Homo sapiens: one gene and its partners. The protein of the gene in region 2 purifies or fractionates together with the protein of the main gene of each other region. This does not show direct contact. Each region holds a gene or a part of one and is shown on either strand. Other genes may lie near its edges.

Evidence for each region.
Region 1: the proteins of ARHGEF4 (region 2) and SMC3 purify together in Homo sapiens (affinity purification with mass spectrometry, with the first as the bait; one large-scale study listed by BioGRID). This does not show direct contact.
Region 3: the proteins of ARHGEF4 (region 2) and ZC3H14 purify together in Homo sapiens (affinity purification with mass spectrometry, with the first as the bait; one large-scale study listed by BioGRID). This does not show direct contact.
Region 4: the proteins of ARHGEF4 (region 2) and CHCHD3 purify together in Homo sapiens (affinity purification with mass spectrometry, with the first as the bait; one large-scale study listed by BioGRID). This does not show direct contact.
Region 5: the proteins of ARHGEF4 (region 2) and KNOP1 purify together in Homo sapiens (affinity purification with mass spectrometry; one large-scale study listed by BioGRID and IntAct). This does not show direct contact.
Region 6: the proteins of ARHGEF4 (region 2) and CLTA purify together in Homo sapiens (affinity purification with mass spectrometry, with the first as the bait; one large-scale study listed by BioGRID). This does not show direct contact.
Region 7: the proteins of ARHGEF4 (region 2) and SLAIN2 purify together in Homo sapiens (affinity purification with mass spectrometry; one large-scale study listed by BioGRID and IntAct). This does not show direct contact.

The regions. Positions count from the first base shown.
Region 1 is NC_000010.11:110,601,664-110,606,183, reverse strand, and holds the end of SMC3 (structural maintenance of chromosomes protein 3), read right to left. Parts: coding exon 4,300-4,520; intron 4,219-4,299; coding exon 4,006-4,218; intron 3,711-4,005; coding exon 3,519-3,710; intron 3,360-3,518; coding exon 3,182-3,359; intron 3,001-3,181; coding exon 2,894-3,000; intron 1,954-2,893; coding exon 1,882-1,953; 3' UTR 136-1,881; downstream 1-135. UniProt on the Homo sapiens protein: Central component of cohesin, a complex required for chromosome cohesion during the cell cycle. The cohesin complex may form a large proteinaceous ring within which sister chromatids can be trapped.
Region 2 is NC_000002.12:130,843,025-130,847,544, reverse strand, and holds part of ARHGEF4 (rho guanine nucleotide exchange factor 4), read right to left. Parts: intron 1-4,520. UniProt on the Homo sapiens protein: Acts as a guanine nucleotide exchange factor (GEF) for RHOA, RAC1 and CDC42 GTPases. Binding of APC may activate RAC1 GEF activity. The APC-ARHGEF4 complex seems to be involved in cell migration as well as in E-cadherin-mediated cell-cell adhesion.
Region 3 is NC_000014.9:88,600,394-88,604,913, reverse strand, and holds part of ZC3H14 (zinc finger CCCH domain-containing protein 14), read right to left. Parts: intron 2,991-4,520; coding exon 2,831-2,990; intron 2,087-2,830; coding exon 1,854-2,086; intron 1-1,853. UniProt on the Homo sapiens protein: RNA-binding protein involved in the biogenesis of circular RNAs (circRNAs), which are produced by back-splicing circularization of pre-mRNAs.
Region 4 is NC_000007.14:132,977,102-132,981,621, forward strand, and holds part of CHCHD3 (MICOS complex subunit MIC19), read right to left. Parts: intron 1-4,520. UniProt on the Homo sapiens protein: Component of the MICOS complex, a large protein complex of the mitochondrial inner membrane that plays crucial roles in the maintenance of crista junctions, inner membrane architecture, and formation of contact sites to the outer membrane.
Region 5 is NC_000016.10:19,707,208-19,711,727, forward strand, and holds part of KNOP1 (lysine-rich nucleolar protein 1), read right to left. Parts: intron 4,234-4,520; coding exon 4,165-4,233; intron 3,380-4,164; coding exon 3,302-3,379; intron 15-3,301; coding exon 1-14.
Region 6 is NC_000009.12:36,207,209-36,210,547, reverse strand, and holds part of CLTA (clathrin light chain A), read right to left. Parts: exon of another isoform or gene 1,994-3,339; intron 1,282-1,993; coding exon of another isoform or gene 1,228-1,281; intron 1-1,227. UniProt on the Homo sapiens protein: Clathrin is the major protein of the polyhedral coat of coated pits and vesicles.
Region 7 is NC_000004.12:48,382,661-48,387,180, reverse strand, and holds part of SLAIN2 (SLAIN motif-containing protein 2), read right to left. Parts: coding exon 4,254-4,520; intron 3,535-4,253; coding exon 3,397-3,534; intron 1-3,396.

The DNA of each region.
Region 1 (4,520 bases), on a different chromosome or scaffold from region 2:
CTCCTTGGGTAAATGTCTGTCCTTCCTCTAAGTTTCTGGGTTAAGCATGCTCAGGATTGTCACATTTTTCTATTCAGTCTCATTAGAATTAATTCATGACTAAGATATCGCAAAGAATATAGGCTTTTACAAAAATTTTGTTTCATTATTTAGATGCTTTATTGTTATAAATTTACTGGCATTTCATTATACTAATATCCTTGGGGAAATGCTTAAGAACAATATTAAGAAGTTCTAGAATGATGTTATGTTTGTAACATCCCTTGAATTGAATCCTGGAACTTACCTTACACCAAATTCTGTATTATAAGGGGTTGGTCATATCAGAGCAACTCTACAAATCGTAAACTATACACCAAGCATTCATGATGAATATTCTTAGGTAGTTGTTTGAGAAAAATTCTTGGGTAAATGTGTAAGAAAAATGGTAGAAATATTAGAAAGATATTATAGTTACGTAACCCTTTGAATGTAGTCATAGATAGAACATATACCAAATTCTCTATTATAGATCAGTTATGTTATAGCAAAGCTACAAAGTATAAATAATACACCGAACATTTAAAGATTCAGCCAGTCAAAATGAAAACCCAAAGTAAACTCACATTTTTAAATTCAATTTAAAGTCCCATTACTATTTCTTTATTTTAAAAGTATCTCTTTAGGTATTTCTGGTTTCCAATGATGGAAGAGTAGCTCCTAACAAATTCTCCTGCAGATAACCAGTATAAACTCAGGCCAGGGGAAATCAAGAAAAAGAAATTAAAGGTAAATATTTGAAAAGGAAGAAATAAAACTGCCTCTTTCTTGCAAATGACATGACTGTCTATGTAGAAAATCTCAAAGAATCTACAAAAAGCTACGAGGACTATTGAGGTAGTTTTCCAGGGTCACAGGAGACCCCCAGTGCTTAAAGACCTACTTTCAAAGAAAAGAGTAGTATGGAAAGGGAAAAAAATGTAACTTCACAACAAAGAAACCTGGCAAGTACAATGTTGGGTAGGTGATCAAGGTAAACATCAGTGATAAAACATGTTAATAATATGTACTATTATATGAGGTAATGAGAATACTTCGCTTCTGTGGTATTAGCTCCAATCTAACCATGAGAAAAATATTAGACAAACCTAATTTGAGGGACATTCTACAAAATATGTGAATATTATTCAAAATTGTCAAGATATGATAAACAATGACAGAGAAATTGTCACAGACTAGAGGAGATGTAAGTAAATGTAATGTATCCTCTGTGGGATCCTAGAAAAGAAAAAGGGCCTTAGTGGAAAAACTAGTCAAATCTGAATAAAATCTTGAGCTTAGTTGATAGTAATGTATCAATGATAAATATACCATGGTAGGGGCTGATTTTGTGCTTCCCTTCCCAAACTCACATGTTGAAGTCCTAACCCTCAATACCTCAAATTTAACTGTATTTGGAGACAGGTCTTTTAAAGAGGTGATTAAGTTAAAATGAGGCCTTACATCCAATCTGATTAGTGTTCTCACTGGAAGAGACTATGACAAATGAAAAGCCACATAAAACACTATATTAGTCATAAAACCGATTATTTAATTGAAGCTATAAAAAAGGTAGTATAAGTGATAAAATAATTAGGAAAGAATATTTAGCATGTTTCAAAACATTTAAAATAGGAGCAGAACATTTTACAAAAAGTTGTACAGGAAATTAAATTCTTAAACTATCAGTACAAACATGACATTACAGAGTATCTTATAAAATACAAAGACAAATATAAAAGGACTATGATGCTTTAAGTCTGAAAACTATTGGCCAAATATTTAGGTTTAAATTTACAGTTCCTGGGTATGAGAATCATATTACTATATACATCTCCCAAACCAGTAGGTAGTATTTTCCAATTAACCATGTGTGGTATCATCTTCTACAAAGTCTTTGGCCATCTCTGCTGTGATCACATCAATATGACTAACCTGAAGAATAAATGTTAAAAACAAAAATCTGTTAATTACATCAGTGTTTACATTGTATAGGGTAAATATATACAGCCTATCAACTACATTTAACTACATTTTTTAATTTTTAGTTTTTTTTTTTTTTTTTTTTTTTGAGATGGAGTCTTGCTCTGTTGCCCAGGCTGGAGTGCAGTGGCACCATCTTGGCTCACTGCTACCTCCGCCTCCCAGGTTCAAGCAATTATTCTGCCTCAGACTCCCAAGTAGCTGGGACGACAGGTGCACGCCAGCATGCCCAGCTAATTTTTGTATTTTTAGTAGAGACGGGGGTTTCACCATACTGGCCACGTTGGTCTCAAACTCCTGACCTGGTTATCTACCTGCCTTGGCCTCCCAAAGTGCTGGGATTACAGGCATGAGCCATTGCGCCCGGCCTATCACCTATATTTTACATATGAAGGAAAATAATTCTGAAGCACTGACTTATAAAACCTTTATTTACAGTGGTGTTTGTTCAATGCATAGATTTAAAAAATATGTATTTTAATGCTCTGAAGAAATAAATATCATGCCTAAACATCTAAACTACCTTTTTGTTCACTTTCTATTACTTTGCTATTTCATCAAGAATTTTAAGGTTGGGAAGACACCCAGGAAGAGCTATGCAGTCTATACAAATGAACATATATAATTGTTAAAGACTGTGCATTACAGAAGCATTGAATAGACTGGACAGAAAGATATTGTTTATTAATGCCAATGAAAATAAAACCAATGCAACGCCATAAAATACTGCTAAACTTCATAGTTATTTGAAGGAAAAGTTCTTTCTTTACAAAGACATCAGATAAGCAAAGACTTTCTAAGTTTTCTTTCACTATTTAAGTAACATAAAATCAGAATTCAACAAATATAATTGAATAAATACAAACTTAAACTCAATGTAAAATAAAATTACCTTATTTCTGAACTTTACACCATAGAATTTGTCAGCTGACTCAAGCAGTTCAGGCCTAAAAGTAGTTGTAATAAACTGAGCATGTACAGCAAGTTCCATAATCATATCTGTAAAAAGAAAATTGTGCTTTAACAAATTTCTTTTCAGCAGATCTGAAAATTTAAAAAGCAACTATCTTTACTCTTACTAAAATTCAAAACTGCCTGAGTTTGATTTTTTCATATATACATCAGCAAATATTACCAGCTTATTGTTAAATACAAAACCAAAACTGTACTGAAACTGTACCTGACACAGCCTTTCTGTGCTGAGCATCCAGAGCCTGGTCAATTTCATCAAACAAGTAAAATGGAGCCGGGTCACATTTCTGAATGGCAAAAATCAGAGCAAGGGCTACCAAGGATTTCTGTCCACCTGAAAGCTGTTGCATTTCTCTCATTTCACCTTGTTTTCCTGTAAATGACACCTAAAAATAAACATATTATGAGTTAATATCCTAAAGGGCAGAATCACCACCATCTTTCAAAAGTAACTTGCATATAATGCACCAATCAGATTTGCAAAAGATACTATAAATTCTATTATGGTAATGCTCTGAGGAAAATGGAATATAAAGGTATTTTACCCTAATTCCAACTCCAGTAAACTGGTCAACTGATGGGACACTGCTTTGTGAGCCAGAACCCCTCTCACTCTCACCACTCCCTTCTCCTTCATCTTGAGACTGACTGCCCTCCACATCTCCTTTCTTCATCACCAAAGTAGCTTTGCCACCAGGTACTAACTTCTGGAATACTTCACTGAAGTTCTTAGATACCTTAAAACAAAAGCAGATTGAAATATAAATTTTGCTTAGAATTATATATAACACTTAAGTAAAATATTTAAAAGCAACCAATTATTTTTTAATCTTAAGAACAAGGATAACAGACTAGATCCTTCTAAGGGCTGTGTAAAACATTCAAGTTACTGTAAACCTATATGCTAGGTTTGTTCACATGTATTAGATTCACCTGGTAATGAGGAAAACAGCTTTAAAATCTTTACAAACTGAAAAGAGCTGGAAGCTTTTGTCCTCTGTGTGTATGTTTTAACTACAAAGCGAAACATACCTGTTTGAAAGTTAACTGAATAGCTTCATATTTCCGAAGTTCAAGTACATTCATCAGTTCCATGATTGATTTGTAACCCCTATCTAACTCTTCTTGACGCTTTATTAACTTTTCTTTCTGCTCGGAGAAATTTACAAACTGATCCAAAGCCTTTTTGTTAACATGGCTGTACTTCTTTAATTCTGTGTTGCACTGCTCAAGTTTTCGAAACAACTATAAAGAGAAAATATGTATTCATATAAATAAATTTATATACTGAGCAATTTGTAACAAGACTTCAAATTTAAAACCAACCTGTTTGAGGCTCAGTGTCTGGTACTTTTCAAATGCTTCCTGGGGAAGTGATCCAAGTTCTCGAATTTTCTTCATACACTCTTCTTTCTTCTTCAATAGCATGCCTTGCCGATTTGTCATCTTTTCCAGTTCTTTAGTATCATGATTTATAGCATCCATATGTTCTTTTTCCATATTTTTCCAGCGCTCCATACTCTTCTGAAGCTCCTTAATTCCAGCTT
Region 2 (4,520 bases):
ACATGTGACTGTCACAGCCACCTTACAGAGAGGAACCATTATCCTCGTTTTACAGATATGAAGACTGAGGGATGAATGATTAAGTCACACCAAATGTGCACAGTTATGATCTTTTGGTGCCTCCAAGTCCAACGTGGTGACTGAAACCTCCTGTCTTCCAGATGCCTCTGGGTGCCCATGAGGGCTCAATAATTTCCCCCGGCCTCCTCTGCATTGAGGCACTCATACTCCAGGTGAAAAGCGATTCAAGAGGAAGCAGGAGACGCCCCTGGTCACTAATATCACCCAGTTTGTCAGATTCAGCTCAGGCACTGAGCAGTGTCCGGAAAGGCCAGATTCCTGGGAGGGGAAGGGTAGCCTGCTTCTGGAGGGTGCAGCCGGCTTTGGGGCCAGGTGTCCGGCAGGGGCAAGGCTGGGAAAGGCCCTCAGGGTCGCCTTGACTGGACCCAGTGCGTCAGGAATCCACACAGGGCTCTTAGCCCGCGCACATCAGAATTACACCCAGGCTTTCCCTAAAGACCTGCTCAGGCCTCCTCTGGAGAATCAAATCTGGGGCTTGGAGGGCTTGGCACATGTCTGTGGATACAGTGGAAACACACTCTGTGTATCTGCCATCCGGCAGGCCCTGATTCTCCTGCTAAACGTACCCGTGTCACATAACTCGACCCCCGGGGCCCACAACTTCCACCTCACGATGAATCAGAAGAACAAGACTCTCCGGACTCATGTCTGAGCACAGACAAACGTGCATTGCCCTGACCACAGAAGCCCCATCAATGCCCTGCACCAGCTGCCTGAGTGTCCCAGCTGCCTGGCTGTCCAGCTCTGGCCTGGCTTCCTTCCTCCTTCTGCTAAAGAAAGACCCCTGACCCTAGAGCTGCCCCCGCACCTCCTGAGGGCATCCATCCAAGCAAAGTCCAGCTTCCTCAAGCCCCTCTCACTGGGCCCGAATCCTGCCCTAAGTCCCTTCTCTCTCGCCGTCCCATATCGCTCTCCCCATGTGCACCTCCCCACGGCAGGGGTCACAGCCCCCGCAGGCAGGTTCCTGAGGGTCCTGGAGTGAGGGCGCTGGCCTGGGGGTGCTGAGAGGGAGGACTGGCTTATGCTACACAGCCAAGCGGGGCAGGGAGGCTGGCGTAGGGCCAGCAGCCTGGTCCTGCCTGGCAGTCGGTGTGGGTGGCTCCTGGGATCCCAGCACCCGAGAAGAGGTGACTCTTGGGTTGTGGGGGTCTCAGATGACCAGTCACCCCAGGCTGACAGTTCCCAGGCCCTAGGCCCTGGCGGCACCAGCCAGCAAGGACACAGCACTGATGACAGTTTTAGTTTGAGCTGAGCACTCAGCCGAGGAAGGCCTAACCACTGGGCACACAGAGAGTGGATACAGGAAGCAAGGGGCTTGTTTGAGCTCTCAGAGAAGGACCTGGGCAACAGACCTTGAGCCAGGCCTGCAGAGAGATGGCTGCCTTCTGGCCGAGGTGGGCCTGGCTTGATCGAGGTGTAACTGACGCACAATAAACTCACACACTGGAAGCACAACCTGAGGGTTTCGACCGGTGCACAGTCAGCAGCAAATCTCCACTGCCTCTGTCCTTCCTCATCTGCCCTCTGGCTTCCGCCCACGCTCACCTGTCCCCAGGCAGCCACTTGTGTGCTTTCTGTCACTGTAGGTTCGCATTTGGGATCACACCGTAGGTCTGGCTTCTGCCACTGGGCCTGGTTCCCTGGAGGCCCATCCGGCCTGATGTGTATGGCAGCAGTTCCCTCCCTCCTAGTGCTGCTCTGTGGATGTGCCACCCTGTGAGTCGCTTCCAGGTCTTCTCACAAGCTTGAGTCCTCACACAGAGGCAGACTGTACCACTTGACCCAGCTTCTCCCACCAGCCACACCCACTATGCTCTGAGGAGGATGTTCTCATAGTCAGCATGCCTCTGTAAAAACACACTTTCTAGGCTGGGTGCAGTGGCTCAAGCCTGTAATCCCAGCACTTTGGGAGGCCGAGGTGGGCAGATCACAAGGTCAAGAGATCGAGACCAGCCTAGCCAACATGGTGAAACCCCATCTCTACTAAAAATACAAAAATTAGCCGGGTGTGGTGGCGGGTGCCTGTACTGGGCTCCCATGATCCTCCTGCCTCAACCTCCCAAGCAGCTGGGACTACAGGTGTGTGCACCATGCCACGTTAATTTTTTTAAAAACATTTTTGTAGAGACGGGGTCTCCCTATGTTGCCCAGGCTGGTCTGGAACTCCTGGGCTCAAATGGCCTCCCAAAGTGCTGGGATTACAGGTGTGAGCCACCGTGCCCGGCCAAAAACTCACTTTCTACCTAGAGCAGGAACTTCGGCCAGCAACATCAGGCAGCATCACACTTGGCCAAGTTTCAGAGATGGGTTTCCATTCAACCCCACTGGTTATAAGTAAAATATAGCGGGCCGGGTGGCTCACGCCTGTAATCCCAGCACTTTGGGAGGCTGAGGAGGGCGGATCATGAGGTCAGGAGTTCGAGACCAGCCTGGCCAACACGGTGAAACTCAGTCTCTACTAAAAATACAAAAATTAGCTGGGTGTGGTGGTGGACGCCTGTAATCCCAGCTACTTTAGAGACTGAGGTAGGAGAATCACTTGAACCCGGAGGTGGAGGTTGCAATGAGATGAGATCGCGCCATTACACTCCAGCCTGGGTGACAAGAGTATGAGATTCTGTCTCAAATATATATATATACATATATATATATTTGTTTGGGGAAGACAAAAATAGAGGTTGGCGGGGGATAGCTAATAGTTGTTGGGTGCTCTCTCCACATGCTTTCCCTTGGTTTTCTTATTTAAATTTTCACATGCCCCTGAGAGTGAAGGGGTTACATGAAGGTGCCCCAGGGCACAGAGCTCTATGGGAGAGTGGACCCACCTAGGGGCCATCACCATCACAAAGGGACCCTGGGAAGAGGGGCAGCTTCCAAGGAGTGCTCCAAGGAGACCTCTTCTCGAGCATGGGCAATCTTTAGTTCACAGGCAAAAAAGCTGTGGAAGAGAGACAAATCGACCCCTGTGGTACAAACGTGGCTGATACCCAAGGCATTTCAAGCTAGCCAGGGTGGGACAGGGTCTCTAGGGGTTTACTGCCGGGGTTTGCATCTGGCCAACAGGGCTGTGCCCACCAGGCAGGGCGCCCCGCCTCCTTTACAACAGGGCAACGTGAGGGCCGGAGGGCCTCACAGGCAGCACCATCCCCGTCTGTGGAGGGTCCCGGAGCCAGGGATGGGCCAATGGGCAATATCGTTTAAACCTCACCACCTTATAACTGGCAGAAGGTGAGGGGCAGCCCATTGCAGAGATGAGGAAATCACATATGGGATCCAGAAAGACACAGCACTTCTCCTGAGCCAGGGAGCTAGTTGCGCTCAGCGGGAGAAGCAAACAAAACGTATGGGGTCAGCGACTCCTACAGGAGACCCAGAGTGAATTCAAACCCTCTGCAGGGTCTGGTACCTTCCCAGGTTATAAACAGTGGCTGGAGTCTCAGGAAGGGCTGAGGACACCTGACTGAAGCCAGTGGGAGGACAGGGACACAGAGGTGGGGCAGGCTGTGCCCAGCCCATACCTGGAGAGCAGGGCTGTGCTCCACCCAAGTTTGGAGAGAAGGTTTCAGGAGTTCATGTCTCTAGAAACATCAATCTGGGGCCCTCTGGATTCAGGGCCCCCCTGGGGCTCTGACCTGGCCACACACAGACTCAGCGCATTTCCCGAGGATACGCTGTGCTCCAAACCCTGGCCCTGCCCTCAGAGCCGACAGCCCAGAGGGAGAGAACAACCTTTGGAGATGCCAATTATGTCCCAACAAGCAGGGGGTGCTTGAGAACTTGTGTTGTACAGAAAGACCATCTGGTGAGGTCAGGGGAGAGCCCAACGGGGCAGAGGCAGGGTCTGGAGGAAAAGCACAGGTGGGAACCGTGCCCCCCCTTGGAAGAGCAGTGGGGGAGAGGAGGCCTATAGCACGAGGAAGCACTGGTGCCTCTGAGCAGCAACGCAGCCAAGGCTGGCAAGTCCAGGTTAGCAGGAGGCACAGCCCAGGGGAGGCACGGAAGGCCTGCTGGCAGACAGCTGGCTCCCCTGCCGGGTCTGCCCCACCCACTCCACCATGCAGGAGACCAGCCTCTGTAGGGTTCAAGAGGGCAGCCCGCCTCAGCTCAGGGTCTCCAGCCTTGGGTTCCTGCTGCGACCTTCACCCAGAAGAGTTCAAGGATGTAGGTGGCTCCCTGGCAGAGGCCCCAGGAACCTGGAGTTTAGACCCTCCTTCCGCCACAAATGTGGAGGGGCCAAGTGAGTCCTGGAAAATTTCTCAGTCATACACCATGAGTGGGTATTGGCTGCCCCGTGCTGAACAGCTGCTGGGACTGGGGAGAGGAGGAGATCCCAATATAACCGAAAATCTGGCCCCATCTATCTTGAAAATAGAAAGGAGGCAGATATCCTCTCGTCCCACCCTCTGGCAGCTCAGCTAAGACCCAGCCAGGACCCTGGC
Region 3 (4,520 bases), on a different chromosome or scaffold from region 2:
ACCTTTTATTGAAAGCTATAGGCCAGGCACGGTGGCTCACACCTGTAATCCCAGAACTTTGGGAGGCCGAGGTTGGTGGATCACTTGAGGTCAGGAGTTGGAGATTAGCCTGACCAACATGGTAAAACCCCGTCTCTACTTAAACTACAAAATTAGCCAGGTGTGATGGTGCATGCCTGTAATCCCAGCTACTTGGGAGACTGAGGCAGAAGAATGGCTTTCAACCTGGAAGGCAGAAGTTGCAGTGAGCTGAGATGGCTCCATTGCACTCCAGCCTGGGGGACAGAGAGACTCTATCTCAAAAAAAAAAAAAACAAAGAAAGCAAGCTATAAAATCTGTGCTGCCATATGACAGTGAGTGAAAAGACAGCAGGTTAAAACAGATGTTGTTGTTGGTAGCATCCTTGAAACAACCCAACATAAAACCAACCAGAAGCAATTGCAGTTTCAAACTCCCTGCTCACAGGGGAAGTGGTGCAGAGACTAGAGACTCCTGAGAACTGTTCTGCAGGAGTCTCTCCAGCCACACCCCTATGCTAATCTTACAAAGCTTCATCCTTGAGCAGCAGGGAAACACTGAGTCCCCAGTCAAAGCAATGGGAAAGGAGGCTCACCACTCATCATGGCTGTCAGCACAATGGCCACAGCACTGGCAAGAATTTTTACTAACATATTATTTATGGTGTCACTGCTGCTACATGTATACCCCATAAAGCCTCATATGGACACCTACATTTAAATGAAACCAGATCCTAATAGACCAAAAAATTAAGGTACCAAATTGAAAATCAAGAGTAGTGAAAACACTGGAGTCTTCTCTTTAGACAAAACATACAGAGTCAATAAATCGGGACTGCCTACTGCAGCTTTTACTATTTTTTAAGTTTTTCTTCCTGTTGATAGGGTCAGATTTTCAACTCCCTCCACTAATCAAAACCACGACACTACGTCATTGATTCACAGTAGGAAACGCAACCAATTAAAATAAAGCTAAGTGTTATTGCTCCACTAACATATGATTTCCCTCTGAAGTCTATTCTATTTTTAATGATCGAGAAAGGTATTCAATACATTTTCATATCTCTTCCAAGAAGAGGATTACTCAAGGAAATGTTTCAAAATCCATTACTGTTTTTCCTTTGAATCTGTACGCTTTTAAGATTGAGTAATTATCCCTCCTGCCAATGAAGAGGTGCTTCTAAATATTTTAGAAGATATAAGGAACATAATTACCATTCTCTATCATGAATGGAAATGATCAGTGGCGTTGCAGCTACCACTGATACCCAGTGAAAGAAACGGTGATAAGAAACTGTCACCTGCCAAAAACTATGGTGCTATCTGAAATGAGTTCATCTGAGTTCTGCTAAATATTACTCTTCAACATTAATTTAAACAGTTCCAAGATCTTGATAGATTAGGTGAGAAACTCCTTTCAAAGAAATTTCACTGAGGTAGAAATAGCATCAAATCTAAATTTTTCTCTCAAGTTAATTGCAAGAGACTATTGCTGATAAAAGGGCAAAGTGGCAGTACAGTTTCTGAAGAAAATACAAAGGTAAAGAAGGCAACAAGAATGGTGGTTCATCCTTTAGCCAGCATAAGCGGAAGAGGTCTCTCAGGTTCCATGGCTGAACTCCGTTTTCAAACTGGAGTAACAGCCCACCTATGAAAAAGACACAGGAAAAAGAGTCTGAAATGTACTTGGTGGGTTTGTCTGAAAGAAGAAAAAAGGCCATTACTGAATATAAATAAAAGCAAGGCCTTTAACCAATATTCATTCAAGGTAGAGAAACAAGTCAAAGATTCCCTTCACAATGACAGCACCCTGAAAATCTGAGCTCTCAACACACCGTTAGAAAAGCTACCATTTGGGTCCTCAAGCTGCCTGCTCAGCAAGTGCAACTGCTGTGGGTGGAGGAGACCTCTGAGTCCCTTGTTTGAGGCTGCAGTTTGGTTTACGGGTTTCATTCCTTCAAAGCACATGTCCTCCTCTTGATCTGACATGTATCCTGGGGGGCTGGGGACACCATCCAGCGTCACTATAAACTTGGGACTTGCAGGTTTATCTGGTTGTACAAGATCTCTGCCAGACAGATAAAAAATACCATAGAATTAGGGAAACAAACACAAAACGCTGAGCCCCCTAAAGTGCTCTTCAGCAGAACTATCACTCCCTTGGCTTTGCGTTTGGTTCAATAAAAAAAGACTAGGTAGGGCTACCAGGTGCAGCACTGGTGGGTTCTCTGCTAACACACGATGGCCATGAACAGTCACAGTGGCATCACCAGTGACCCTCCAGCCTGTACTTACTAAGGACAATCTCCCCTCAAGCCTGACCCCATCACCCATTCGATCTTCATAGGGTCAACATGGAAACAAACCAAAAAATTAGCATCAATGCTCAGAACACAAGGGCCAGCAGCATTTATGCTAATTATCTGTATGTTTCTTCTTTTATAGAAACAGTCAATTTTCTAAGGGAAAAATCACCCAAACCTGATCTGCCAACTCTCTTTAGAGCTGACCTGATTATGGTCAGCTGGCTTTTAAACTTGCATTTCCTGAATTTGCATAAAGAAAAGAATCTTTAATAGAGTTAAATCATACACTGAGTTGTAATTTGTAGGTTAATGGATTTCTGAACAAGAAAGATGAACTGGAATTCTTGAAAACTGAATTTGGCTAACTATTCATGGGCTAGCTACTGAATCAATGAAAGCACTCTACGCTAGCGGTTAGGGCGGGGAGGAGGGAAGCTGCAAACGAATGGTTAACCTTTACTATCTAATCACACAAATTAACTACACAAGAAAAAGAAACCATCTACCGTGTCTGCATAAGGTGTCCTGAAAGTACCCGAAGGGAATCTGCAGTCTTCATCCCCGACTCTTGGTTTGGTGCCACTACTACTTCCTCAGACAGCTTTGGCTTCTTCAGAATAAATGATCTTGTGTCTGCATGGACCATGGATTCCATGTCATAGTAATCTGAGCCAAAAAAATTGGCCACAAATGTTTACTTTTGAATATACCTTACATTCCCAACATTATATATGTGAGAAGAATGTCAATCTTTTATATATTCAAATTATTTCAAAGGAAAATCACAACTGGTTCCACTCAGGAAAACAGGGCTATAATTCTATTCCAAACATGTTTTCAAAGAACTCAAGGAGTCCTTCTCGCGTAGGGCACGGCACAAGTGATTCTGATTAACACTCCCTAACCACAGCAGAGAAAGGTTCTCAGGTGAGGCATCTCAACAGATATTAACAATATACCCTTAAAGTACAAAAATCTTTTCTAAAAACCTGGAGAATTTGAGTCCTAATGCTCCCTATAATTAGAATACACAGACTGCTGAACCACTTTTCCAAAATCTGGTTTGTTCACTTCGCACAGTACCACTTAGAATCATGTCCTGATAAAAAGAATTCAAGTGGTATAATTTCCAGTTGGTTATAAACCGAGGACTACTTTAAAAGGTAACTGAAAGGTGAATGGACACTTAAACATATGTATCAAGAAAAACACTGGCCTTTAATGCAAATAACCATAAGCTCACATCATCTACTATTTTATAAAATATGCCAAGACCTACAACCCAGAATGGCTGACCTATCAATACGCCATCAACGGACTGAAGTTAATACACTTCTTTTAAAGCTTAGAGACCAAAATTTACAGGGTATTCATTTATGTTCATTCACTGAGTATTTACTGAACAACTAAGAGAACTGAGCTAGATACACAAAGAAAAAAAGAAAAACAGACACATATACAATTTCAGAATAGCATGACCCAAAAGGGATGTGAACAAGGTGCTGAGAATACAGAACAGCCCACTCCAGCCAAGAACCAACGAAAAGCTTAGCAAGGAGGAACATCTGAAGTCAGCAGTAAAGGAACAAGCAGGAATAAACAAGGAGAGAGACTCGGAGAAACGAACACAGCACTTCAGGCAGAGGAAAACGCACGTAGAAGGAAAGGGGCTTTCACAAGGCCGAAGGCATCTGAGAAAGGTTAGAATGTGGAATGGCTGGAAGGGTGTGTGTGGTGGGCTCAGCAGTACATACCAAGGAAGGCTGACACATATAATAAAGGTTCTTCTATGTCTCAGTGACTCTCGATTCTGGTCTATAATTAGTAAGAAATCAAGTGGCCTGGTGTGGCGGTTCATGTCTGTAATCCCAACATTCTGGGAGGCCAAGGCACAAGGATTCCATAAGCCCAGGAGTTTGAGACCGGCCTAGGCAACATAGTGAGACCTCCCATCAACCAGAAAATAAATAAATAAATAAAATTAGCCAGGCGTGGGAGCACATGCCCGCAGTCCCAGCTACTTGGGAGGCTGAGGTGGGAGAAGTGCTTGGGCCCAGGAGGTCAAGGCTGCAATGAGCAGGATTGTGCCACTGCACTCCAGCACGAGTGACAGAGGGAGACTCCATCTCAAACCAAAAAAAAAAAAAAGAGAAAAGAAATCAAGAGAGGTTCCTAAGGAAGGAAGTGGCCTGATCA
Region 4 (4,520 bases), on a different chromosome or scaffold from region 2:
ATGATATCAACACATTAACACCACTGGATATGTGTAATTGTAAGAGAACAGCAATAATTAGAAGTCACACCACTTCCTAGAACAGCAGTTCTAAAACTACAGTCCACAAACCAGCTGCAGTAGCATCAGCTGGGAGTCTGTTAGAAATGCAGCTTCTCTGATTCCATCCCACACTTGCTGAATCAGAAACTCTAGGGATAGTGCCTAGCAAACTGTCTTTTCATAAGCCCTCTAGAATTCTGATGCATGCTAAAGTTTAAGACTACAGCCCTTAATTACCAAAATACACTTGTACTCAAATAAATCCTGGAGGTAAATGAAAGTAACATCAAAAATGAAGTGCTCCCCATGAGAATATTGTGCAAATAACTGCTGAGGTTATCATATCAGATTACAATACTGTATTTAACGCATTTGTATGGACATCTTACCCCTAAGTAAAAAAGCATTACCTATTTTTACCAGTGAGGTGGAAACTAAAATAAAATAATAAAATTACTATCATTTATGGATCAACTACTAAGCACTGTGCTAGGCACTTTACAAACATATATAAAATGTTTATTCAAATTCTATTATTAGTTCATGAACATAAAATGAATTCTGTTCAACTGAATTATCACATCTACCACATTTGGTGTATCTAATTTTAAAGTACTGTTTAAAAATTACTACTTTTTTTTTCCATTTTAGTTTACTTATGTATGGCTTAGATTTTAATTACATATGGAGTTCTACATGGTTCAACTTTAAGAAATACAGGATCATAAGGATTTTGGCAAGTTAATGAAAAAGAAGCAAAACATGAGCACAAAAGCCTTCAATGTGATAATAAAAATAAACATATTTAGCTTGCCATGACTGGTACAGATATGCAAACTCTGGGTCCAAATCAAGGCTCTAAACTTCCTATCTGAATAAGTACTTTATTTAATCTCCGGTGAGTCCTGTTATTCTCATGGGTAAAATGAAATAGTGTAATACCTACCTTACAGCGTTCTATATAAACAAGGCACTCAGCACAATGCCCATAACATAATATACACTCAATAAATGTTAGGTAAGTAGCAGTAATAATAATAGTACCCACTATGCGGGTAGGAATACAGAGAAAGCAGTGATTTTACGAAATGAAGAAGACAATCTCCAAATTCACTAACTACAATGCCATCTCCATCATCTTTTCCAATTTTTCACCAATAAATTCTGCTTTATTTTTATGATCTCTAAGGACTTCTAAAATCACAAATTGACTCTACTAACTCCAGCAGCTAGACCCTTTCACAAGCTGCTTCCTTTCCCTCTTGTCCATAGCTCCATAAGGACAACGATTTGCCCTATTTTTGTTCACTGCTATATCCCCCATACTTATAAAAGTGCCTGCCACATATCAAACACGCAAGAAAAAGTTGTTGATGTATGCATGTGTGAATGAATGAATGAATAAATAAATAAATGGCATATTTCTAACCACAAACAAAACAAGGAAAACAAACTGCAAAAGAACACAAGGCGATGGTATATAAGAAACAACTAACGAGACAAACTGTATCCTCCAAGGGCTTAGCCACCATGTTAGATGTGGCACATCTGTGATATAATCCCAGGCTACATTAAATAGCCTACAACAGGAGGTGCCACAACAGTCCAGAGCCCCTCCAACATCAACACCTAACTATATTTGACACCTGGATTGAAAGAGGATTGGCAGTGGTGCAAACTGACTAAAAAGAATATTATTTTCCTTTCTTAATAAATTCTTATACTTTCATTCATCCTTACAAATAGAACTGCACAAATTCTCAAATGTTTTTAAAGGAATGTTTATAAATTTTAAAAAAACTTTTTTTAAGGTCTGTATGGTGACTGTTTAAGAAACCAAATTTTTTGTCATCAGGGAGTTTGGCAGTAGGACTCTGAACAAATTCTCATTTCCTATCAACAACTTAGCTGTACAATCTAATAAGCCTCAGTTTCCTCAGTTTTAAAATTTGAAGGTTGAACTACTATATAATCTTATGGTCCTTTGCATATAAACATTCTAAAAAGTCTATACCTTAAACATATTATTCCTCATTCCATAAAAAATCTTGAAAAAGGTGGTGGCAGGGGATAAATAAAACAGAGGGGCATTATATTATCTCCCAGCTTGATACTGTTATAATTTCTACTCGATGGGCACATATACTTCTACTGTAATCCTGAGATTTCTCACTACAGTACTCAACAAAAACTACACACTGGAATTCATAAATTTATTCAGTATATAATTACTAGGTGAAAGGGACTACTCTGGTTACTGAGAATGAAGTAGTGAGCAAGAGACACAGTCCCTACTTTCATGAGCCATGATTACAAATAACAGATGCATTATTTTTAAAAAGTTAGGTAGGTATCTATGACACTGCATGGGTGGGACTGATATTTAACTTGAGCTCTACAGGACATTAACTGAGCAACATGGGGAAGGAGAAAGTGTCTTAGGCAGAGGAAACATCAGTTGGGTCCAGAAGCACCAAGAAAGGATTTCCTTCAGTTAGATTCCTGTGACACTTAGAAGGGTCTCTGAGGCATGAAATCACCTCTGCAAAGAATTTTACTTGCTTTCAGATTCTCTTGGAGGACAGAGTTTCAATGGTATACTGACTGAGGTTCAGTTTTGACCAGTGCCCAAAGATGAGAAGCTTCTAAGTTGTACCATTTCCCATTTAAAAGCAATAGATTTGAAACTTCAAAATTGTACCATTCTCCATTTCCCCAACCCTCCCCTCCAAAATATTGCATGGCAATTATTTTCTTCTAAGTTTCCTCTTTCAATGGTTCCTGTAAATTCTTTACTGAGCCAAAACCACTTTGCAAAGAAAAACTGCTTATGTTTTCAGAAACCCCCAATTACTTTCAAAGCTTCCTCTCTGGCCCCTTGGTTTTATACCGCATGGAGCTATACTATTCAACAGCCATCTGCAAAAGGTAGATGAGCTGTCAACCAATTTTTCTCTTTTTGAACCAAATAAGACAGCCCTGCCATCTGGGCCTCTCTGAAAACTACTGCCCAGATAGTGGAGCTATAAAATCAGAAGCCATGTTGTTTTGGGAACACTTCACTAAGGAGAGAAGACCCAGGCTCTCACTGACCAAGGGAAGGCAGGACTTTATATGTAAAGGCAGGAGATAAAATAAGTCTCTCATTATTAACTTGGGTTTCCAAAGATTTAAGAATTATCTCAAAACAAAACTAAACATGCCAAGTATCTTAGAGAATACATTCCTTTTTTATTTATTGGCATTTCCCACTTAATATTTTAGATCTCCTGCTCTAATATATTCTACATTAAGTCCCTGATTTAAGTTTCATTTAAATTTCTTTCTTTTAAATACATATCTCTCCTCATTTAAATTCTCTAGAGTTTCAAGCAAAGAAGTAGGAGTTTAGTGTAAACTTTTCTTGTTTGCATTAAGTAATTGGATAGCTTGCCTAAGCTTAATGAAACAAATACCAGTCAGTGCTGCCCTTAGACCTCAAGCCCTAGCAACTTAGCTCTTTCCTCAGTATATTGTCAATCAGGCGAGGGACTTAAGGTACACCAGCAAAATGAATTCCTAAAAGCCAGCCAAATCTCCTATAATAAATATTATTACATGTCCTTTTAAATGGGAAAACAAATTAACTACTTATAAAACATTCAACTTTCATGGACAGCAGGTATAAAATCTAGTTCTCTATATTTTAGTCCCAGGGTAAAAACTAGCCAGTTTGACTTTACTCTAAAGAACCTCAAGTTTTTAAGAAAGTAGAAAGAGAATTTTAAAGATAACTTTAGCAAGGCATTAACATATTGAACTTCATTCACCTCCATAAGGGAGGCATTACTAGCTCTAGTTTTTTTGTTTTTTGTTTTTTTGAAACATGGTCTTGCTCTCTTGCCCAGGCTGGAGTGCAGTGGCATGATCTCGGCTCACTGCAACCTCTGCCTCCCAGGCTCAAGCAATCCTCTTGCCTTAGCCTCCCAAGCAGTTGGGACCACAGTTGCATGCCACCAAGCCTGGCTGATTTTTGGGTTGTTTTTTTTTTTGTGGAGACGAGGTTTCAGCATGTTGTCCACATGGTCTTGAACTGGGCTCAAGTGGTCTTGAACTGGGCTCAAGTGATCTGTCCACCTCAGCCTCCCAAAGTGCTGAGATTACAAGCACAAGTCACCACACCAGCTACTATCTCCATTTTTAACATGAGAAAAACTGAGAAGTACAACAGAGGTGTGAAAGATGGTGATCTGACTTCCAAAGTCATACTTCTTAAACATCTTAAAGAGTAAACTTTCCTATAGGAATTAGTTTCCATTATACTACTCACCTTTGTGGTCATGTAAGGACAGTTTTTAAATCTTACATTATTCACGGTTATTTTAAAATAGGCTCTTTTAAAATTTGTGTATACTACACTAAGTCAGAGTTTGCCAGAGTCTAAATTATTACCACCCCTTTCCCAAAGTGGTTTGGCTTTTAATGGCCCTAAATGTTTT
Region 5 (4,520 bases), on a different chromosome or scaffold from region 2:
CCAAACTGGGTTCCCTGTGAGGAGAGGAAAAAGGTGGCTATTTTCCTTGAGTTCAAAGCCCTTTCCTTCCCTTGACCCCCACCCTCATCAGGGAGGGCCCAGCAGATTAGATGGCTGCTGTGTACCAGGCACAGTGCTAATAAGCTCAACAACGGATTATTCCGTTAATCCTAAAGACAGCCCTATGAGAAACACTGTTGTTATTCCCATTGCACAGAGGAGAAAATAGAGGTCTGCAGCTTAGCTGGAGACAGAAACCTAACTAGTGACCCCCAGAATTCCAGCCCAGGTCCAGCCAACACCACTGCCCACCTCTGCACAGAGCTGCCTTTCTGCCTTCCTCCTCCTTTCCTAACTCATGGCACACGGCACAGTGTGCCTCACTTCACAACAGCGCACTCCCCCCACCACCCTACACTAAGCATTTCCCCCCACCTCCCTACACAGTGCACCTCCCCTCCCCCACCTCCCTACACAGCACACTCCCCCACCACTCTACAGAGCACACTCCCCCCACGACCCTACACAGAGCACTCCCCCCACCTCCCTACACGGCGCACATGGCGCACCTCCTCCCACCACGCTACACAGCACACTCTCCCCCTACCATCCTACAAAGCGCACCTCCCCTAACCACGCTACACAGTGCACTCCCCCCACCACCCTACACATCGCACTCCCCCCACCTCCCTACACAGCACACTCCCCCACCTCCCTACATAGCACTTCCCCCACTCCCTATACAGCGCACCTCCCCCCACCTCCCTACACAGCGCACCTCACCCCACCATGCATCTCACAAGACAGCACACCTCCCCCACCTCCCCACAGGGCGCACCTCCCCTGCAACACAGGGCACCCCACAGCCCAGCAGCCGGGCGCACTCACCCAGCAGCCTAACGTTTGGGTGAATTGGAGGGTGGGAGAGGGCGAGTGGGAATCTGAAGTGTGCTTCTCAGAAGCACTGTTTTATGGCGGGAACGGGTGCGGGCCCACAGGGGTAAAAGGTCACACAGCCAAGTCAGACTGAGCCAAGCCCAAGAACTCGGGGGTCCCCATTCCAGCCAGAGTGCGCTACCACCCATGTGCAAGAAAATGCAGGAGAGCCCTCCAGACCCCCTTCTCCCAGGTCGGTGGGAGAGGAAAGAAACTCACCTCCCAAGAAGACTGTGACTCGGAAGTCAGGCAGCCCCGGGAGGAAGCCTCCCCTGGGTGACCCTGCTCAAGTCCCCTAACCTCTCTAAGCCTTGGTGCCCTCATCTCTAAGGTGGGGTGATAACATCCCCCTCACAGGGCTTCAGTGAGACATACGTCAGATTTGACACCAAAAGCCCAGTGCACGATGCATGGCACACCTCAAGCCCTCAGTGACTGGCCACTCCTCTCCCCCTACCCCAACCAGACTGCTGACATCGACGCTGCCTGGGAACTTCCCGCCCACAAGCCAGAGGCCAGCCCAGCACTTATTTCTGGGTTGGCTTTGGGAAAATAAGAACCAGTTGTCACTACAGCTGCCCTGAGTGAACCGGTGACACATTCTCCCAGCTTCATGGTGGCCCAGATGCAGGAATAATGACAGCTCCCCTGCCCTGCAGTTTCTAGAGTGAGAGGCCATCTATGACCACCCCACATGGGTTTTGGGGAGAGCAGGAGACTGCTAGCTGGTCCTGCGTGAACCAGCACTTCCAACGGCTGCTGCCCACCCAGAGGACCACTTCACCACGTCTCAGTGGCATGGCATGTCCCAGCCCCTGTGCCCCAGGATCACTCTCCTGCCGTCAGGTCCTTCCAGGGACAGCCCCCCGGGACATCGGCTCCGAATCACACTGCCTTTTTTCTTGCCCTCCCTATTCAAGCTGGATGTCCCATCAGCTCGGCTCAGCTCAGCAGGGTGGCATGGAGAGAAAGGGCACCCCAAGGCAGGACCCATAACAAAGCCCCACTCCATACCCCACCAGGCCAGGGTACGAGTCCCATTTTACAGGCTCAGGGGAAGGTACCTGGCCAGAGTCCCACCACTAGACAGTGGCAGAGCCAGTAGTGAAATCAGATCTTTTGATCCGAATCGACTGTTCTTTTCTGAATGCTCTGACGGAGCCTGAAGGCCAGCATCGCTGGTCACCCAGACCTTTCTTCTCGTCTCCCCAAAATCCAATCTATGAACAAGTCCTGCCAGCTGTGCCTCCAAAGTAAATCACAAAGCTGTTTTCTCTCTCTATCCTCTGCCACCATCCTCAGGCTGCGGCCTGCAGGCTGAGCCTTCTACCAGGTCTTCCCGCTTGCCGAGTCAATGCCCTCCAGCCAATCCCACTTAGCCAGATCCCAGGCCAGCTCTCTATCATGGCCGCTGAGGCCGAGGCCTGTGGCCTGTAGCCCTCTCGTCCCTCATTCCAGCCGCAGTGCCGCCTCACTGGCCTTCCCTACAGATCACTCCAGGCCCTTTCCTACCTTAGGGGTCTGCACCGGCCACTGGCCTCACTGAAACGCTCTTCCCCCTGTCTCCTGAGGGCTGGGGCCTCTGCACCCTGAACATCTCTGGACAAGCGCTGCCACCTCCCAGCCCTCGCCCATCTGTTGCAGCCCCTCTCCAGCTCACTGTTCTGTTTCTTTCTCCTGACCGCTACTGCCACCTCAACTGATCTTCCTTTCCTTGTTTGCTAACCATTTCCCTGCCATGCTCACCCCGCTCTGGCCTCTAGACCGTGAGCGCGATGATGGGGATCACATGGGCTTCATCTGCTCCATGTCCAGCACCCAGCACAGAGCCCCCACTGAACTCCGCCAGGGCCCCAGCCTGACAACCTCACACTCTCCAGCCTCATGATCCTCGCACCCTCCTCCCTCCTGAGAGATCTTCTCAGGCCCGGCTTGGACATTTCCCAGTCAGACTGGATCTGAAAACCAGGCCTGAGAGGGGCCGCGACCACTCCCTCCCCTCTGCCTCTTGTCCCTGTTCCTAGCAGCCCTCCAAAGGCATCGTCCACCACTGGCAAGAGCTCGCTGGAATGTGTCCTCAGTGATTAATCCTTAGGACACCCCACCAGTCCAGGGCTGAGACAAAGGTTCAGGCAGCTTATCTCACCGGGCCAGCTCTCTAGGAGGGAGGCAAGCGCCCTTTTCAGAAGGAAGGAAATTAGCTCAGGACAAATTCTGCTGTGGAGGGAGCCTGCTGCAGGCTAGGGCTGCCTCTGGGGCCTGGACATACTTGGTTCTCCTGCTCCACTCCTCATGCTGGAGGCGAGGGGAAGCGTCGGGAGGCCGAGCGTGCCACCTCCTCGCAGAGCCCTAGCCCCAAACTTACCGTCCACTTCCTGGTTTCAGAAGCTTCCGTTTTGCCTGACTCGCGATCGATCTCTTCTTGCAAGGCCTTTCGCCTCACCTGAGCAAGAAGGATGACAGAAGAGGGCCGTCAGACAGAGATCTTCTTTCAAGCTTAAAACCCAGGACAGAGACGGGGCTGGGGGAACGGAACGTGGGAGGAACTAACACAGCTTGACTCTGCTACAAACAATGGGAAGCTGCTATCATAAGTATTCTCTTAGCATCTCAAGGGCTGCGCCCCTTGGCCTACACTGGGCAGGCTCATTTATCCTCTTTAGCCTCTTAAGAATGAATTTTCCTAGAAACTGAGGCTTAAGAGCTTGCAGTGAGCCAAGATCACGCCACGGCACTCCAGCCTGGGGGACAGAGTGAGACTCCGTCTCAAAAAAAAAAAAAAAAAAAAAAAATCCCCAAGGCCAGAAAGTCCACTTCCCACAGGGATGCATTTGCCACGGGATATGGGAACGACAGAAGCGGAAGCTGATTCACAACAAAACTTCTCCTCTAAATGCTCCTGAATTAGCCCAGGGGGTGGCAGCATGTGTCACCTGCCCAGCTGCAGGGTCTTAGGGACATGTCCCCCACATCCTGCAGCAAGTAACAGGGAATGGCCAGTCGGGCCTCTCGGCCATGGCCACGGCAGCCGGAAGGGCCCCCAGCATGAGGATGGGGAAAGCACGCATTCCCGGCCCGGGAGGTGTGCGTTGGCAGCTGGCCCAGTGGCCTCTGGAGTCCCTGGTGCCCCTGAGACCAGGATCACCTAGCCAGCCTGGCAGGCAGCAAGTGAGACTCCAAGGGTGGCAGGAGGCAGCGGGAGGGGCCTGAGGAGGGTCTGGGCTGTACCTGGTCTATGTGCGCCTCATCCATGTTGCCTTTTTTTTCCAACACCACCTCTAAGTCCGTGTCTGTTTCCTGCAGGAGAGGGCAGAGCTGGCTAAGGTTCAAGTTTACAATGAATGGCCTCTGCCTCTGCACCCAGCCAGGGTGAGACCATGACAAAGTCCAGAAAAGACCTCAGACCACGGCATCACCCCCAGCCCTGCCACCTAGAAACATCTCAGTCAGCAAAGCCCTTCCCATCCCTTCTCTTCCACAATTCTCCCGCAAAACAGTAGTACTAAACTATTTGACGGATGAAGAAACTGAGACTCAGACAGGTAAAGTGACTACAAGGTTACCCCACGGCTCAGGGACTGGTG
Region 6 (3,339 bases), on a different chromosome or scaffold from region 2:
TGGTCAGTAAGCTGGACATGCCCTTGCCACTCTATCTGTGCTTGGGGACGTGCAGCTGGCTTTGCTGGCCACCCAGCTGCCCAGCAAAACCAGACTCGACCTTTCCAGTCTCCATTTCTACTCCAGAGAGAATGTGCAGAAATCAAATCAAACACCACCTGTAAGTCCAGCATTTCACAAGTCTCACTGCAAATGCATCTGGGGGCCCAGGAAACCCAGTTCTATCTTCTAAGGGGATGAACATCTCAAGGTCATAGGCCCTGAGAGGCTCTACAGACCTGAGCTCATCGCCCACCTTCCACAGGTTCCTCTCCTCTTCCATTCCACCCTTACTTCTCATGTAAAGCCAGCCCTAATTTTTAAGGAGGAGACAATGAGAACTGTTTCCAACTCTTCAGCAATACTGCTTTGATAAAAGAAATCCTTAAAAAAAAGAAAAAAGAAAAAAAGAAAAAAAAAAGAATAAGAAAAACACCTTCTCCAGAGAAGATGCAGGTTTCTTTTGGGGGGGTCAGGGGGAGAAGCCCAAGTGGCCCGTATCAAGACACTTTGACTATCCTGATCTCAAAGCTGGGGGCTTCCCTGTGCTAGGAGACAGGACATCAGAAGCTGACCACTAAATAGCAATTTCTGACATGCAAGACCACAGAGGAACAATTATAGACACCCACTGGAGACAACCCCCTCTGCTCTGGACTCTTCTGCCTGAGGGAGAGGCAAACGACCCCACATTGTTTGAATGAACCAAGTATGGAAAATGCTGCCCCACAGCTCTGATTTTGGCAATGCAAGGTGCTGCTGCTCACTGGCTCCTAACCTCCTGGGACTGCCACCTGCTCCCAGGTGGGGAAACCTCCTTCCCACCTGAGGCAGGCAGGCAACAGGGCATGGCAGCAGTGATGGCAGCCAAGAGCAAGAGAGCAGAGTTCCCCCGAGCCTCAAACCGTTCCCAGATAAGATCGCAAATGACACATTTTGAAAGCGAGTTAGCTTTCTTCCCTCCAAAACCCCAAATATGAAAAATGGCCATCAGAGGATGCAGGGAGTCACAAATCTGGAAGATTCATCAACAGATCATACCCCGCTTATCAATTCTTAGGCAGCCCCCAAAGTGCCAATTTGAAATAATTTAAAAAGCAAAGCAACTTGTGACATAAAAGGAGCATTAACTCTAAACAAAAGTAGAAAGAATCAGATGTAGAAAAAGGAATTAGTTTTGCAACATACACATAACCAATCACGTCAGCGAAGGGTTGTTTGTAGAAAGCTTCATCTGCCACCCTAGACAGCAAGAGGTCCAAAAGGCAGGCAAGCAGGCAGGAAAAAAGAGAGAACATTGAGAAGCAGAAACATCTAAAATCCACAATTGAGGTACAACTGTGCTCTGAGGAGCTGCTCCCAAGGCTCCTTCCTAACCCCCGTGAGGCTTCCAGCGCTGGAGACTTCAGCAGGCCTGGTTTCCCGCTGGCCTTCCCACGTGGGGACTGCTCCACGACAGAGCAAGCACTGCCAACTTCATCCCTTTGGCTCACCCCAGCAACACGGGCATTTATTAAGCACCCAATCATGGACTAAGCCCTTTCACATACATTATGTTGATTCAATCCTTAACTGTTAACAACCTATGACCCTGACTGTTCTCACCCCCACTGTACAGATGAGGTAACTGAGGCTTAGAGATGAACAACTTGCTCAGCTACACCACAGTGGCAGCATTCAGGACTCACAACCAAGGCAGCCTGGCCCTAAGTCCAGGGCTCTTTCTACTGTATAGTCATGCTTCTTCCCTGCTGTATGTGCCCAGAAAGCCACGCCACCTTCCTGTTTCAGTTAATGCACTGGGCAGGAATGCTGCCAGACACCAGATGCGCTAGGACCCAAAGCCAGTTTTATCTTGGATTATCTAACTACTGCTTCCCCACACTGTCTGGGTGGGATACACTTCCAGAATCCTGGGAACACATATCGTCATTTTAAAATCTCAACCTTACAGGAAAAAACGGCTGGAGGTGAGTGGTCTGGTGGGAAGAACACTGGACTAGGATCCTGGCCCTGGCTTCTGTTGTTCCTGAATATGGCTCTCTCTCTACTCAAGAAGCGGGTACAGTTTCTGAATATTTTTACACCAGACTCAATTGGCTTTGATAAGGTGCAGCCCAGAATCCAGAACTTCATCCCTTCTTAACTCTCAACATGGCAGGGCTCTCAGACAGGAAGGAGGGGGCAGACTGGGTGGATAAATTTTGACAGCAGGGGCCAGGCTGGCTTTGACTCTGTTGTCCTGGACTGACTCCCTGGGCTCTGCCAGCCCACTCTTCTCCACTGTGGCTGGACATGGAACCTCCCTCATGGAGTCTTACCCTGTCCTTTGTCAAGTCGATTTGGGGTGGGCAAGGGGAAAGACATTTTTCAAGGATAATCATGCCTGGTCATTAAGCTAACCTCACATACTTATTTGAAGGCAAATTCTAGTAATTTTAAGTTAATTTTTAAGCTCACACATGCCCTTCCTTCTTTCCCATTTTGTTTTATACACAGGAGGTGTTTTGTGGAAATTTAAAGAAAGCAAAAAGAGCAGGCTGATTATAACTTAAAGTGACTCAGCAGGAAAACAGAGTTGTTTGTGGGCAGAATGAGTGGGAGGAAAAGGCAAGGCAGGCTGGCTTATAAACCCATAACCCTTTTAGTTTACACAAAGGACTAAACCTGATCGATTTCAACTTGGGTTTCCCTCCACAAGAAGAGTAGAGGTTTCATGACTCCTGTCAAATCATCACTAAGACAACAAAAGTTTGAATGTCAGGCTCTTGCTCCTTTGCAGCTAGCCCAAGACCAAAGAGCTCCTCAGTGACAAGCACATCCCCTGTCAAGGTTGCAGGCCCAGAACAAACAGAAAATCAGACACACACACAGGTGGCCCTCCCCTTATTTGTCCTTCACTTGAAAGTAGCAATCCTCAGCCAAGGCAGGAAGGGGCTCAGGGAGGCTTAGGAGAGGGGAGGGAAGAGGAATACCTGACCTAGGACAAGCTCTGGAGGCACGAATACAATGCAGAACTTCATTCCATAAACAGCCTCAAAGTGGGCACAGAAAAAAATGTTTGCCATCTCTGAGAACTGTGGGTTCCCCAAACCTTCTCAAGCCTTGAAAGAGCTGACAAGCACAAGTGCTACCTGTAATAGGGGAAATGTTCTGGGGTTGTTCTTGATGAGCAAACTCATCCAGCTGCAGGAGTCAGTCACTGCTCTGGCTGGCTGGCTATGAAAAGGAAATTCTTTTCCATGGCTGTCACTGAATAATTCACAGCTCTTGTACTGTGACACTTAGGCCTCAACTTGG
Region 7 (4,520 bases), on a different chromosome or scaffold from region 2:
TCATTTCCATAAAGCTTTGACATGCTAGAATAGTTCAAATACAGAGCATGTATGAGGGGACGAGGTAGAGGATATAGATATAGCTAGTTTTAGAAAGTATCTGGGATGCTGTTTGGACATGTATCATGTAAACTTTTGAGAAATCCAGAATGTAACAGTTCAAACTAAATATGAAAGCATCTTTGAAAGCCAAGTACAAACATTGTTTTGGATCATCTGTTCACATGCTGTAAAAGCATGGCTTATAATATACATAAGTTTTATTATTTAACCTTCTTAATGATTTACTATTTTTCTTTCCTGTTACATTAACATTGTGGGTGGTTTTTTTTGCATCAGCCAAATGTGTCAGGGGAAAAAAGAAGCCAGAAACAGGATATTCTCAAGTGTCAAATTAATCTGTATCACTCACGATTTCAAAGATAAAGCTCAAATTCTATCCTTCCTTTCAAGTGTTTTGTGAATTCCTGTTTTCTATACTATTTATTAGTACTACAGTGAGTATTATAATGGCACTCTCAGTTACAGAGTTCACAATAAGACTTGGAGTACTAAGTTTAAAATGTAATTTGCTATAAAAACAGGTTTTAGCATATATCTAGCTGAATAAATGTGGTTTACAAATCTCTGGGTACCAATTTTCTACAGTGCTTTAAACGTTAGAATTTTAAATCTTAGGAAAAATGGAAATTATATTTCTGGATAAGTTTTATATCATGGTCTAAACCATAGATGTGACAACTCTCACTAGGTGAATTTGGACTCTCACCTATTGAGATCCAGTGCTCAAGATGAATCAACATGGGTTTAAATTCTAACTTGCCGCTTATAAGCTGTATAATCAGAGATAGGTTATTTGGCCATTCAAAGCTTCAATTTCTAATCTGTAAAATGTGGTAATAATCGTACCTCCTTCATAGAATTGTTCTAAGGATTAAATAAGATTATGCATCTAAATACAGTATAATATAAATTTGTTATATAAGTAATATCATATGCACCTTGTAAATAAGGAAAATTTGTCAATATATCACAGAAGTCATTTTGATTCAAATATAGTTTTTTCGTAGCTTTTTTTTTTTTTTTTTTTCTTTCAATAGACTGGAGTGCAGCAGCATGATCATGGCTCACAGCAGCTTCAAACTCCTGGGCTCAAGCAATCCTCCCACCTCAGCCTCTTAAGTAGCTGGGACTATAGGCATGTGACCATCATGCCTGGGTAATTAAAAAAAAAAAAACATTTTTTTAGAGACGAGGTCTTGTGTTGCTCAGGCTGGTCTCAAACTCCTGCTAGCCTGTTGATTTTTGAGCCACTAAGTAACAACAGCTTAACATGAAGTATATGAAGTCAGCTAAACACAACAGGGCCAAGGAAAAGTGTGAAGAAATTAAATTAGCTGGGCATGGTGGTGCACGCCTGTGGTCCCAGCTACGCAGGAGGATCACTTGAGCCCAGGAAGGTGAGGCCGCAGTGAGCCATGATTGTGCCACTGCACTCCAGCCTGGTGACAGAGTGAAACCCTGACTCAATCAAAAAAAAAAGAAAAAAAAAGATGAAAATGAAAAAAGGGTTAAATATCTTCAAATTTTTAACTGCTTAATAAACAAGTTATAAGTGAACAGTCAACAAACTCGTTTGTATCACTTCTTCATAGCCTTGAGAAAATGAAAGAATATAACACAGCTACCACTTCAACCACTGATAGTAATATGCCACAAGGATCTGAGACAATATGCATCCATTGTGTACCTACAAGGATCTGAGTGAATAAGCATCCCTTGTGTCCCTACAAGGACCCCAGTGAATATGCACCCTTTGTGTCTCAGAGCTCATATACGGGACTGATGTGAGCTGTGAAACACATGGGATGAATACTGAGCGTTCATAAGATCATAAAAATAACTGTAATCATTTATTTAAAACCGTTTTGACTACACGCTCAAATCTATCCTAGCTAAAAAGTAATTTTTTGAAATTCCTTTAAAATCAACTTGTACATTAATATACACAATGCCCATTTACTCCAACATCACTACTTCTTGGCTCAGTTTGGCTATTTTGTCCTAGATGATCTTACTGTATGATTCTCTCTGATCTTCGTCTATGCTGCATATGTTTCCTTAATTCAACAGTCTCAACCTTTCCTTTCCATCACATTACCTTCAAATCTTTCTTTAAAAATGAAGTTCTATATCTCCTGGAGTATTTAATAAAGATTTAACATGAATTTAACTGTGCTAGTATCATTATTGTTTTTATTAATGCTTTCTAAGAAAGTTGCTTGGGTTTTCAGTGGTCTGTTCCAGGACTATTCCCTCCACTCCTCATCATCCTATCATTTTTATTGTGTAATACTGCAGAATGTGAGGTTTTTAAGGAGTGCATATTTTGTGCTATAGTAGAAATGCCTGTATTGATTTAACATACTACTTGCCACAAAATAAAAACTCAAGTATCTATTACAAATAATAGTTGAATACAAATACTGTCACATTCATGGGTTAGTAACCACCCAATGACCAAAACTTATTAAAAATTATAATCTACATGTGTTCTTTCTACTATACTTCTAAAATTCACCTTCTCTGTTTAAGAGTTTAGCTTTAACTCTAAGAATTTGTTTTCTGAAAGATAATTTAAAGAGACAAGTCCTGATCAATTCTTAAAAAGTGATGGTTTCTGGCAATTTATCTCAAATTTTAATCTATAAGTAGGATTAGGACTATGAATTAATTTGGCATACATATTGATTCAATATTGTATTTTTTCATTAAAATAGCCTTAACAAACACAGAAAATCAAATCAAAACCAGAAATCTTATCTCAACAGATGCAGAAATAAAATGAGATCATCCAAGAGTTCTCCTGGTATACTTTTGTTTTGGAAAGAAAAGAACTTCAACAATTCAACTTTGATAACAGATTTAATATATTGCAGGTTTGAACAATGGATTATTTTGAGTATGATTCTAAAATTATGTAATAATCAAACTTTTAGGTATTTTTAAAGTGGAGGTTATTAAAGAAAATTTACGTACTAAGGGACATATATTTTTGGATGCTCTACTGGTTTTTATTTCTAATTCTAGTATCTATAAGCAAAAGCTACACCTACTTTTTTAATAGTTACATTTTGCTTATTTTAAAATTCTGGAGAGACCAGAGTTTTGTATAGACAGATGTACTGGCAGAATCAAGTATCCTACATAGAAAATTTTAAATTGTAATATAACTTTGATTATCATCCAGCAACTAATAAACACTAAATTTTACTATAGCTATGGTTTAAAACGGTTTTTCAGCATAAAAAACGGTTTTTCAGCATAAAACAAATATCTAAAATTTTCACTTCTCTTTAAATAACTGATACATGAAAGCATAAGAAGGATACTTACTGGCTGAAGCCTGAGGTTGCATACGAGGTATTCCTCCGTTTGGCACTTGAAAATTTGAGTCACTTCTGCTGCTTTTCACTGAGTCAACTTGTGTATTAGATGTTCGGGACAGGTTTGGAAGACTGCGTCTTAGTTTTTCTGCAACAGAATTTTAATTTTAAAAAAATCATATTCTTTCAGATGGAGAAAATTAAAATATTAACTAGCATTCAAAAATCAAATTGTTTATCAAACATTCTGTTTATTTTAGATGAGAAAATACAAAGGACTTGTCTTATTAAAAAAAACAAACAACTCGATCTAGGATCTGTTAAGTGGGTAGAATAAGAGAACACTTAAAGATAACCACAAATTTTATATTTAAAGCAAAATCTAAATACAGGTAACTTCATAAAACAATAAAGCAAAAACAACATAACCAAGTAAAATGAAATTCACTTTCTCTTTTATTTTTGTAATGATTCACTATTAATAAAATAGTAAACCTGACTACACTCTTGATTTACTTATCTGAAATACAAAAACTTAGCAAAAATTGTATTACTTTCATAGTGAAATATAAAGGACACTTTTTCTCTTTTTTTAATCTAGAAACTTTTTTTTTTTTTTTTTTTTTGAAAACAGGATCCTGCTCTGTTGCCCAGACTGGAGTGTAATGGTGTGATCACAGCTCACTGTAGCTTTGAACTCCTGGGCTCAACCAATCCTCCAGCCTCAGCCTCTCAAGTCACTAGGACTATAGATGTGCACCACCATGCCCAGCTAATTTTGAAAATTTTTTTCCTAGAGACGGGGTCTTGCTATGTTACACAGGCTAGCAGAAACTGTCTAATTATTAGTAAAATCTGCTATTTTACCTTCATTTTTAACATTGCTTGTCTGTAAATCTGTGGGATGGCCTTGAAGTGAAAGGCGAGGTTGCTGTAAGCGGCTAATCATAGGCTGTGGGGACACTCTACTATATTCTATTCCCCGAGCAGGAGATCGTGAACGAGGTGAATTTCTGGGTGACTGCTTAGGTGACGGTCGAGGTGAATTGCGTGGTGATGGTGAAAACCTGTTAACAGCAGGGTATACTGCATGATGCATATTGTCATCTTCATCATCTAAACTTTGTGCATCAA